Linked DNA regions of Homo sapiens: region 1 is linked to region 2. The links come from fine-mapping of genetic effects on gene expression. A gene starts in region 2. The other region holds a variant in brackets. All regions are shown on one strand. Distances are between the middles of the regions.

The links. PIP is the estimated chance that this variant, and not a neighbour inherited with it, causes the effect. A credible set is the group of variants that fine-mapping cannot tell apart.
Region 1: its variant is the best candidate, but not a certain one, in a credible set for the expression of UNC79 in cerebellar hemisphere (GTEx, PIP 0.52).

Annotation. Positions count from the first base shown.
Region 1 is chr14:93,476,468-93,481,467 of GRCh38, forward strand. It overlaps UNC79 (unc-79 subunit of NALCN channel complex), which reads left to right. Exons shown (of 52, transcript NM_001395159.1): 4 at 1,091-1,261. Among named protein-coding and RNA genes, the nearest start is that of UNC79, 48 kb to the left of the region's middle. The variant G/T (reference allele first, on the strand shown) is at 2,345.
Region 2 is chr14:93,427,632-93,433,064 of GRCh38, forward strand. It overlaps UNC79 (unc-79 subunit of NALCN channel complex), which reads left to right and starts at 3,308. Exons shown (of 52, transcript NM_001395159.1): 1 at 3,308-3,420. The coding sequence starts at 3,399.

The DNA of each region.
Region 1 (5,000 bases), 49 kb after region 2:
TCATTTGAGCTCAAGGTTGACTGACTCTGGCCCTCTAGTGTGCACTGTGGCCACATCCTTTCTGTTGTTAGCTGATGTGCCTGTTAAGATGGCATATTAATTCTAACGACAATCAGAAATAACATTAGGAATCCAAAGAAGGTTCATCTGCTGCAAAACAAAGAAGAGTCTAGTACTTTTCTGTTATAATGAATACAAAAGTGATCCAAGTCTTCATCATCAAACCTTGGCTGATGGCCTATATTTTGGGAAGTCCAGGAATATACAAATGTACATTTAGTGTAATGGGATTTGGCCTACATGCATTCTAAAGCTAAATAGTTATGGTTTTGTTGCATCTCCTTTATTTTTATTCTTGTGCAGGTAATAATAATAGTAACTGTTAATATTAGTAATAACAGCTAATATTTGTGGAGCACACAGTATGTGCTATGCTAAGGACTTTACATTTATCTCATTAAAACCTCCTAACAATCCTTCTAATGAAGTGAGGTAGGTATTGTTATGATCCCTGTTTAAAGATGTTGTTAGAAAGATTATTATTAGGTAGCACTTCCTCCCATGATCATTGATGACTCAATGCACATGGTCATGTAGCACCAGCTTACGGCTTCCCTTGTTTGGTGCTTGCTGAAATTGCTGCTCGGCTGAAGGTTGCAAATTACCTCATTGCCCGACACTCCAGATGGTTTGATTGATGGAGCAGAAATAGCCCGGTTTTATTTCTGATACTGCCCTTGACTTTTCTAAAACTTCCATTGGGCAAATCATCTAACTTCTTGTGCCTCAGTTATCTTGTGTAGAATGTAGTAATACAAATACCAAGTATTATTGAAGATTGAGAAAGTGTGGAGGAAAAATGCATGTAATGGATATTTATATTTCTTAACATATTCATTCATCAGTCATTTATTGACCAATTACTGTATAAATAGTACCCTATCAAACATTATGTTTCATAACACTTAATAGAGATGGAGCACTAGTTGCTTATAACTTAAACCAGTTCATTAAAGCTTAAAATGTAAAGTTAGCCTATTTTGTTAATTGCAAAATATTCAGTGACTGATTACTCAATTTTGTTTTGTAGATCTTGGACAGTCGATATTTTATACAACTACATGTTTGCTACCTTTTCTCAATGATGATATTCTGAGTACTTTGCCCTACACGATGATATCAACGTTGGCTACCTTTCCTCCATTTCTGCACAAGGATATCATTGAATATCTTAGCACATCTTTTCTACCAATGGCTATATGTAAGTCCAATCTTACCTAATACTAGATTATTTTTATGTATGATATGAATGGAAATTGCTTTTGCTGTTATAGGCTCTAGTTTTTCGAGATTATAATGGAATCACTTGATATATACAGGAGCTATGATTTCAATTCAGTCACTTTAGCATGGATATTATGGCGAAAGTCAAAGAAATGAAAGGCGTTAGGGCTTAAAATTGTTTTATTCAGACTGTTTGATCTTATAGAATAGAAAAAAAGAACATATCAAGGCAGTCTAGATTTCCTATGTATAAGTTACAGTATCTTTTACCACTTTAGAAAAAAGATGGGGAAAGTATTGTCTCAGATGCAGAAATTCCTATCTTTTGGCTTTGAAGGCAGTAGGATCTAATAGAAAGAGCATTAGATAGTCAGGATGTGTAAATTCTGGTCCCAGCTCTGCCTCTAATCTGGGCAGCTCACATAGTTGAAACATCATCTACAGAGTGACGAATCCATCAGCTTTCCCTTATAGAGGTATCGTGATGATAAAGTGACTCGAAATTTATGAAAGCACTGAAAAAAGCTAAAGCTTCCAAGTCATGTGCAATGTATGATTATAAACATAAAACTGATTTGAATCCTGTTTCATTTCTGTAGACTTAATCTTACAGGCTTTCCAGACATGCGCACAAAGAGAAAAAAATATTGCATTGTGGTTTTTATGATCAAAATCATTTTCAAGTATTTTTTAAAGAAATGGATTATGGATTAATCTATGTTTCAGTGGGAAATCCGAAAAGATTGTGGATTTAGGAGTCAAACGTTGGGATCCAAATCACAGCTCTTCCACCTACTAGCTATATGACTTTAGGCAAATTACCCAACTTTCTGTTTCTTTCTTATAAAATAATAATAATAATAATAGCTGCCTCATGAAGTTGTGGGATAATTAAGATGGTTAACTTGGAACATTGGTAAAATGCTAGCACAATGCCTGGTATGCAATAAGTGTCAGCTTGCTTCTCGCCTTCTCTCAACTATTGTTTTAGAAAAATACTTTCGTTGGTTACATTCAACTCCTAGTGATCATTATTCACATTTTAATTTTATGTACTTAC[G/T]ATCTTATTAAAGTTGTTGCTCTGTAATAACAATTGGTAACCATATATATCTTTTGAGCTACATTTGCTTATTTTTACAATCAAGTTTAATGTTAGCTATGGAATTGTACTTTTCATGTCTTTCAGCAAAGAGTTTGACTTCTCCCTAAATTATATAGCAATTCAAAAAAATTAGCAGACTGATCATACCATTCAAGTAATACAATATTTGATCATTTTCTTCTTTTGTTCTTACTGACAAGTACTCATTTCTTGATATCGTTTTAGAATTGCATAGTCATATCTTTAAAATAAGTGATGTTAACTGTTAAACTTAGGCATAAGAATTTTTGGTTTTTTGAAGCATAACAGATGAGGCTGTTTCCTTCCTTCCTTCCTTCCTTCCTTCCTTCCTTCCTTCCTTCCTTCCTTCCTTCCTTTCCTTCCTTCCTCCTTCCCTCCCTTTCTCCCTCCCTCCATTCTTCCCTTCCTCCCTTCGTCCCTTCTTTCTTTCTTTAGTTTTTTGAGATGAAGTAACACTCTGTCACCCAGGCAGAAGTGCAGTGGTGCAGTTTTGGCTCACTATAACCTCTGCCTCCTGAGTTCAAGTGATTCTCCTGCCTCAGCCTCCCAAATAGCTGGGACTACAGGCACCAGCCACCACGCCCAGCTAATTTTTGTATTTTTAGTAGAGATGGGGTTTTGCCATGTTGGCCAGGCTGGTCTCAAACTCCTGACCTCAGGTGATCCACCCGCCTCAGCCTCCCAAAGTGCTGGGATTACAGGCGTGAGCCACTGCACCTGGCTTCCTCCTTCCCTTCCTCCCTTCCTCTCTCTCTCTCTCTCTTTTCTTTTCTTTTTTGATATAGGGTCTTATTCTGTTGCCTGGGCTGGAGTGCAGTGGCACAGTCATAGCTCACTGCAGCCTCAAACTCCTCGGCTTAAGCGATCCTTTTGCCTTAGGCTCCCAAGTAGGGTGTGAAGGCCTCTACCACCATGCCCAGCTAATTAAAAAAATTTTTTTGTAGAGATGGGGTCTCACTATGTTTCCCAGGCTGATCTGGAATTCCCAGCCTCAAGTGATCCTCTTGCCTCAGGCTCCAAAGTGCTGGGAGGCGATGGTGGGATTAATGAGGAGGCTGTAGCTTTCTAACAATTAATCTAATTCACTAAATCCCTCCTTCTTAGGAATAAGTTAATAATTATGGGAGAGGTGTTGAAAATATCAGGCCTCTGAAGTTACATTTAAGATTGATCAAGTATTGTGATAGCTGACAATTTGTTTCTTTACACTTAATTATTAATTTCTACTTAATTAGAAACACAGATCCCAAAACATGCCATGTAGTCACGTTAGAATTCTTACTTACATAAATGTACAAACCTTGGCAACTGAGGAGAATAAAACAGTAAGTTGAGTTTACAAAATTTGTGTATATTTTAATGTTTATTAGAGGAGTAACTTGGCATTTATTTGAAGGTATGAACAAGTCACTTCATGTTCCCAAGGTCCCATTTTTTTTAACTATAAAGAAGGGGTTTGAAAAAAATGTTCAGTCTCGCAGATTACTTCTGGCGTACTAATTCTAGTTTAAGTAACATCAATATTATTTTATGTAAGAGGCACGTATTGTCCTCTAACCTAGTTGTTGGTCTACTTCATGTGTTTATTTTGTTGCTCTGGTTTTAGTCTTTTGGCTTTGACTTTCCTTTCTCATAATCATTCCTGTGGTTCAATAATAGCCAATATTTGTCATCTTTAAGTCTTTGAAAATAAATTGTAATACCAACCTTTACAGCCAAATTCGATTACACCATTCAGGTGTTTCCTTTGTACTTGTTATTTCATGAGTATACAAAGACATAGATCCAAAACCAGAAGGATATAGTTTCAGATTAATCATGTTAAAATGGACTGATGTGAGAATGTGTGTCCGTGTGTCGTATTCATGTTTTTTCTATTTTTTTGGTAGTTGTTTTGGTGTCTAGAAATTGTGACCAAAACAAGACAAGAACGCATAACTTCTTGCAGAATATTTTTATTTCAGGACTGAGATGTTAGGATGAAGGATATTGTATGTCCTGAGTACTTGATAAAGTCTTTAAGACAAAAAGGCTTTTTGGTGTGGTGTTCCTAATGTCAGATGGAAAACATGAACTGCTTTTCAGGTATAAAATGATTCTATCCTTAAGGACCTAGAAGATAAAGTTCTGATCTTTGAAGTGGACCTAATGAGGTATTGCAGCTCTTCAGAGTAAGAGGCCAGCATGTATATCAGAGATTTCCTCCTTACCATCCTTGTCAATAAACCAAGTGCTGGACTTTTATTTTAGAATGAGTCCTTTTAAGGTTCTGCAGAGCAAACTTCAACTTACTTATTGTGAAATTTTCCTTTGACATAGCTTTTCTTTTTAACTCCTTCCATAAATAAAATATATTTCTCTTTATTCCAAATGTGCTCAATATGCTTTGTTTATAAAAAATATATTAAAGGAGTTACTAAGAATTGAGAAAGTCATTTGCATGTCACCATGGAAACCTCTCTTTTTCCAATAAAGGATCTGTGATTTGTGGACTGAATTGAAATATGGAGATTTGGGAGATGATGGCTTTGGCAGAGAAGAGAAAGAGCTGATTCCAAGTGAACATTGACTGATGCAGGCTATGTTATTGTAA
Region 2 (5,433 bases):
CTAGAATATTAGTTTTAAGAAGCAGATTTTTTTTTTTGTCTTCTCTGTTTGCTACATTATAACAAGTTCCTAGAGCAGTGTTTGACATACATAGGCACTCAATAAGTAGTTGCTGAACAAATAAATAAATAATATAAAATATAAGGACATAACCACAAATTTAGAATAATTTTTTATGGGGGCTTCTAATGTCTCTAAAATGTTTTTTTCTGAAAAGTAAAACAATGCAACATGACAAAATATTAAGATTTGATGAGACTGGGTAGTGGTAACATTAGTGTTCATGATTTTTAAAATATTTCTATGTTTGAATTACTTCATTAAACAATAGAATGGGCAAAAAGTTTGGAGAAGACTTTGAAGAGCATTATGTTATAGAAGTCAAGGGAAGAGGGAATTTCAAAAAGAAATAGGGAGAAATTTCAAATGCTGGCATTAGTCACCAAGAGATAAAGCAATTATAATTTACTATTAGGAAATTATTAGTGACTATTGAAGTAACCTGTTTCAGCCACAATTTGATAGCAGGTAGGGTAGTGAGGAAATGGAGAAATGGAGGCCACTTATTCAGTAAGATGATAGGCACAGCTTTTTGAGGATGAAAAATTTATGCATGTTTGCAAGCAGGATGGGAAAATCCATTGAAAAGATGAGACTTAAAATGCTGGGAAAAAGAAGATAATTAAAATAGCAAATTCTAGAATAAGTAGAAATGTTTATAATTAGAGGCATAGGTTTGGAAAAAAAGGCATTGCATCTGGCAATGAGAAGAGGCACTACCTCTGCAATAGAAGAAAACTAAGCAGGAAGGATTGAGATAGGTGGAGACAGAAGGAAAGGTGAGGGAGTTCATTGAAGTAGTAAGGCCATATGTCGGAATGGTGAAACTGAGTAATGGATATGGCCCAGGTTAGTGAGTTAATGGGCATGTCAGAAGGCTCAAGCTGTGAGTGCCTAGGTTGATGATTAGAGTCTCAATTATATGGGTGCTATCAGGCTTTGGAGGCTCCGAAGCATCAGAACTAACCTGAATGGATTGGGTGCATTTGAGGAGTTTCAGCAGTAATGCTAATAGCAGCCATCACTCATATGTGTCATTGTTCTAGATTCTCATATATATACTTATTTATTCCTGACAACCTTTAATGTGACTATGATATGACCATTTTTCAGGTAAGGCAGTCGAGGCATGGAGAAGTTAAGTAACTTGCACCAGGTTACACAGATCATGAGAGGCAAAGCTGGAATTCAAACCCAGGCTGTCTAACTCCTCAGTCCATGACTTAACACCATTATACTCTCCCTTAACTCAGTAACGGGAGGGTTAATTGATGACAAATGAAAGATTGTTAAGCAGATAAAGGGATAATAGGTTTCCAACACATACTTTGTCCTTTGTTTCTGTATTATCCAAGACACCTCTTTTTCATGTGTGTTAATTTCCAATTACTGTTTTCTTTATCAAAGCCTCAGGCTTCCAAGAATTTTCTGAATAACCCATTGAGCTTTCTTTTAGTCATACAAAGTGTTTGTCATCTTCTCAGGAATGTTCATTATATTCATATTTTCTTTAGAATGATTCCAATTTCTTTTTACTCAGAACGAACTCTTTGGCATCATGCTTCACATAATCATTTATCTTTTACTAATAAATGGAACTTCTCTTTGGGATGTGGTTTTGGGAATGAACAATGACATGGAATGATAGCTGATTAGCCAGAGCAACCTGCCAATCAGCAGGATGTCAGAGTCCAATCACATATGCAACCCAAAGAGCCAATTCACTAACCCTTTATGAACATTTTTGCAAATACCATGAAACTTGAGTGCTGTGTGTGCATCATTATGGGCAGTTTCCCTGTTATTTGTAGATTTTTTTATTTGCTACTCAGAAGCATCTTTCCTTGATGTTTGTTCATAATATTTTTCTTAATTGTCCAAGATTTCACCTGAATAGTTTGATATATTACACAGAATTTAAAATTCTTTCCCTAAATAGGATCTTTTATTCTCTGAGGTGGAAAACATTGATTTATCAGCATTAAAAGTCATTGTCAACACTTACCGTTTTGTTCCTGTAACTTTTACTAAATTAACCTGCTATGACCATGCCCCTCAGCTTTAACAAATTAAACTATTTGAATGAAGAATGGACATAATGGTTGGGGATTGTGCCGTACTTTTAGTTTACAAGGACTTGCGCATCCATTCGATCTGCCCAGTAACTCTTCAGGTGACAGGGCAAGGTTTTAATGTTCCCATTTTACAGATAAAGAACCGGAGGTGTAGGGAGATTAGAAGATGGTCCTTGAGTGAGTAAGTGGTAAAAGTGGGTCTTGAATCTGGTTCTTCCCGACTCCAAGTGTCTCTCCATTCTGTAGTGGATTCTTTGGATATCTTCCTATTAATATGCACGATGCCCTCGTCTATTGCCTTCCTTTCCCGCTGCCTTCGGTTTTCCAGTCGAGGGGCTTCCTAATGTGTCCCTGTCCAGCTGGGATGGCTGCAAGGGAGCACACCTGGGGTCTTCCTGTCTTCAGTCTTTCATCTTCCTTTTCTGTGGCCCTTCCAGCTTCACCATCCGTGGACATCTCCTCCTTCCTTCAGCCCCAACTTCTAAAGTCTTGTCACAGCCCCCTGGCAGTGGGACCTCCCATCCCCAATCATCAGCAGGAGAGCCCATCGCAGAGGGGAGGCGAGGGCAGGGACCGCAGCGCACAGGGAAGCCATGCTGAGGGTTCCTCCTGCATTTTCTTCCTCGCGGTCCTCAGGAACATCCTCGCGCCCTCCGGCCCCGGCGCTCCAGCCCGCCCCGGATCCGCCTCCCTCTCCTTCCTCCCCGAGGTTGAGACGAAGCGTGGGACGCACCTGGGTCCCTCTCTGGTCACCCTGCTGAGGCTCCGGGGGCTGCTCCGGGAGCAGGATTTACAGGCCCGGAGAACGCCAATGGGAGATCCAAATGGTCGGGGACTCCGGCGCTTTAAGAGGCTTTTCTCTGGGAAACACCCGTCCCCTCCGTGCGCCTTATGAATGGAAATACTCCTCCCCCGGTCGAGCCCATTTTCCCATTTCACCAGGAGCCGCAGCCTGCTCTCTCCTTTCGGTCTCCCCGCCCACATCAACGCGGGCAGCTCCAGGAGGGGACGGACAGGAAGCCTTTGGCCGCCTATTAAATCCCACCCATTTCTCCGGGGGCGATTTCCTAACCTTCCGGGACCGAATTCTGCAATTTGATGTGCGTTTTGTCCGAATGGTAGCGACACGGGCCTAAGGGAGGGGGAAAGCGAGGGGGTGGGGGGTGGGGGGTATGCACTCTTTTCCTCGCAACATCGCTGGCGGAGCGAGGGAGCTCACACGACACAGATTTTGGGGCAAAGCCTTTCCAACTGGACAGCACCATGTCCACCAAAGCGGAGCAGTGTAAGTAGCAGCCGGCCCGGCATTCCGGCCCGGCCTCGGCTGGGAGCTATTGCAGCTGCGGCGTTTGCGGCTGCTGGGAGACCTTGGCATTGTGCTGGTGCGGGGGTGGGGGCTGAGGTTGGGGCGGGTGGGGGGTGGCGGAGAGAGAAGGTGGGGGAGGGTGGACGTTAATGGCAGCGCGGCGCTGTCCCCGGTGCTGAAAAATAATACGGTCTTCCTCGGGCTCCAGCGGGGGTTTCTCAAGACTCAGAGACCCTGCGAAATGAAATTAAAATGGGGTCATTCTCGGGAAAAAGAGGCCTCGTATCTTTCAGATAAACATTTCAGTATCTCTTGTTGGAGTGGGGGAAGGGGGGTAGCGGCAAATCAGGGGCGGGGAACTGTCAGTTGCAACCAAAGCCTGCCTGGCCTTCTGAGCATGCCCAGTTCTTGGTGCTGGAGCCATAGGGGAGTTTGAGTCTGCAGTTTCCACTTCGGGTGGAAGAGGCAAGAAGGGAGAGAAGGGGGAGGGAGCAGGGAGCCAGGCAAGAGGAAAATTAACTCACTAATGCCAACACCAATGTCAAAACCAACCACAACCATGCGGTGCTTACAAGAAAGTGAAAGGAGCTCTGGGAAAATGACCTAATTGATCTAATTATTGTTCCAAAGAGCAGGCTTCCTTTGTAGGGCAGCCCATAGCACCGGAGGATTTTGGTTGTCCCAGTAATGACTGACTGTGTGCGTGGTTGGAAGCAACCTGCTAACTCCTTGTGGATGGAGTAAGTTTCTAATATGGTTCCCATAGTCTGTCTTATTGCAGTGCGCACTAGTAGGCCTTCGGTGTGTGCTTGGTAGGTTGATCAATGTGAAGCCTTTTTCCGAGTACACTTGAGGGCTTGAGGGATTCAGGAGCTTAAACTTCAGATTGTAAATAAAAGACGTTTTTATTAAGCAGTAAGTTTGAATTTTTAACAATATACCAGAACTTATTCACCTAGATTGACTCCTTTCTTCCAAAGCAGTACACGTTATATGGATAATGCTGTCACTACTTAAAAGTCTTTGTAATTCTTCTTTGGAATGGCTACTAAAGCCGGTTTTTGAGACACACAAAACAGTAGTCTCATTATTTGAGGGCAATATCTTATATATGATAAAATGCAGTATGTCATTTATTCACCAGATAAATTAAATAAACTGAAGGCTTATAGAATTCTCAGATTGATGGTTCATTAGAAATTGTGCATGCCCACCTACCACCCAGTGCTTTTACTTCTTTATGTTTTTTTGGAATCCGGAAGATCTGAGTTTCAATCTTAGTTTTGCTACTGTTTGACCTTGGGCAAGATAATTGACCTCTCTGAACTTTATTTCCTCATCTGTAAACCTGGGCTAATCATGCTGATGGGGTTGTTGTGGGGAATGAGAGAATACATATAAAAGGTTTAGTAATGAGCCTAGCACATAGAATGTACTCAATAAATGATGGCTATGATAATGACAAGCATTGCCCACTTTTAAATAGTCCATCTCCTCTAAATAGTTAGGAAGCTCTCTTGTGATTTTTTTTGCATGTTTCTGAAAGTTAAATCTACATTCAAAATTAAGTTTTGCTTTTACAGAGGTTTTTGAAAAAAATTGGGTGCATTCTGTTTTGAGGAATGGTAACATAGTTTGAGTCCATGTAGAACCTCCCACTTGAGAATATCACATCCTGATATTATAATAAAGCCAAGTGGTTTTATTATAGTATGGTTTTTAAAGGAAAAAACACCACCTGTCATTTGATTGTGTAGTTACATATTACGTAAGTAATTTCAGGCTAAAGCCAGTGAGTATTACTGTCCTCTTCCTGTGTTTTCTCTTCCTTGTTACATTTTGAAATGGACTGGATGCTTTGTCTTGTCTCTTTCCTGGGCAATGAATAAAATCTATCTATGGACTTGATTCTGTAGAGCAATTAGTGGACTTAAGTAGCTATTTTAGACGTGTTAGTGAAACAGATTTTTTTCATCTGTAGAGGATGAAAAG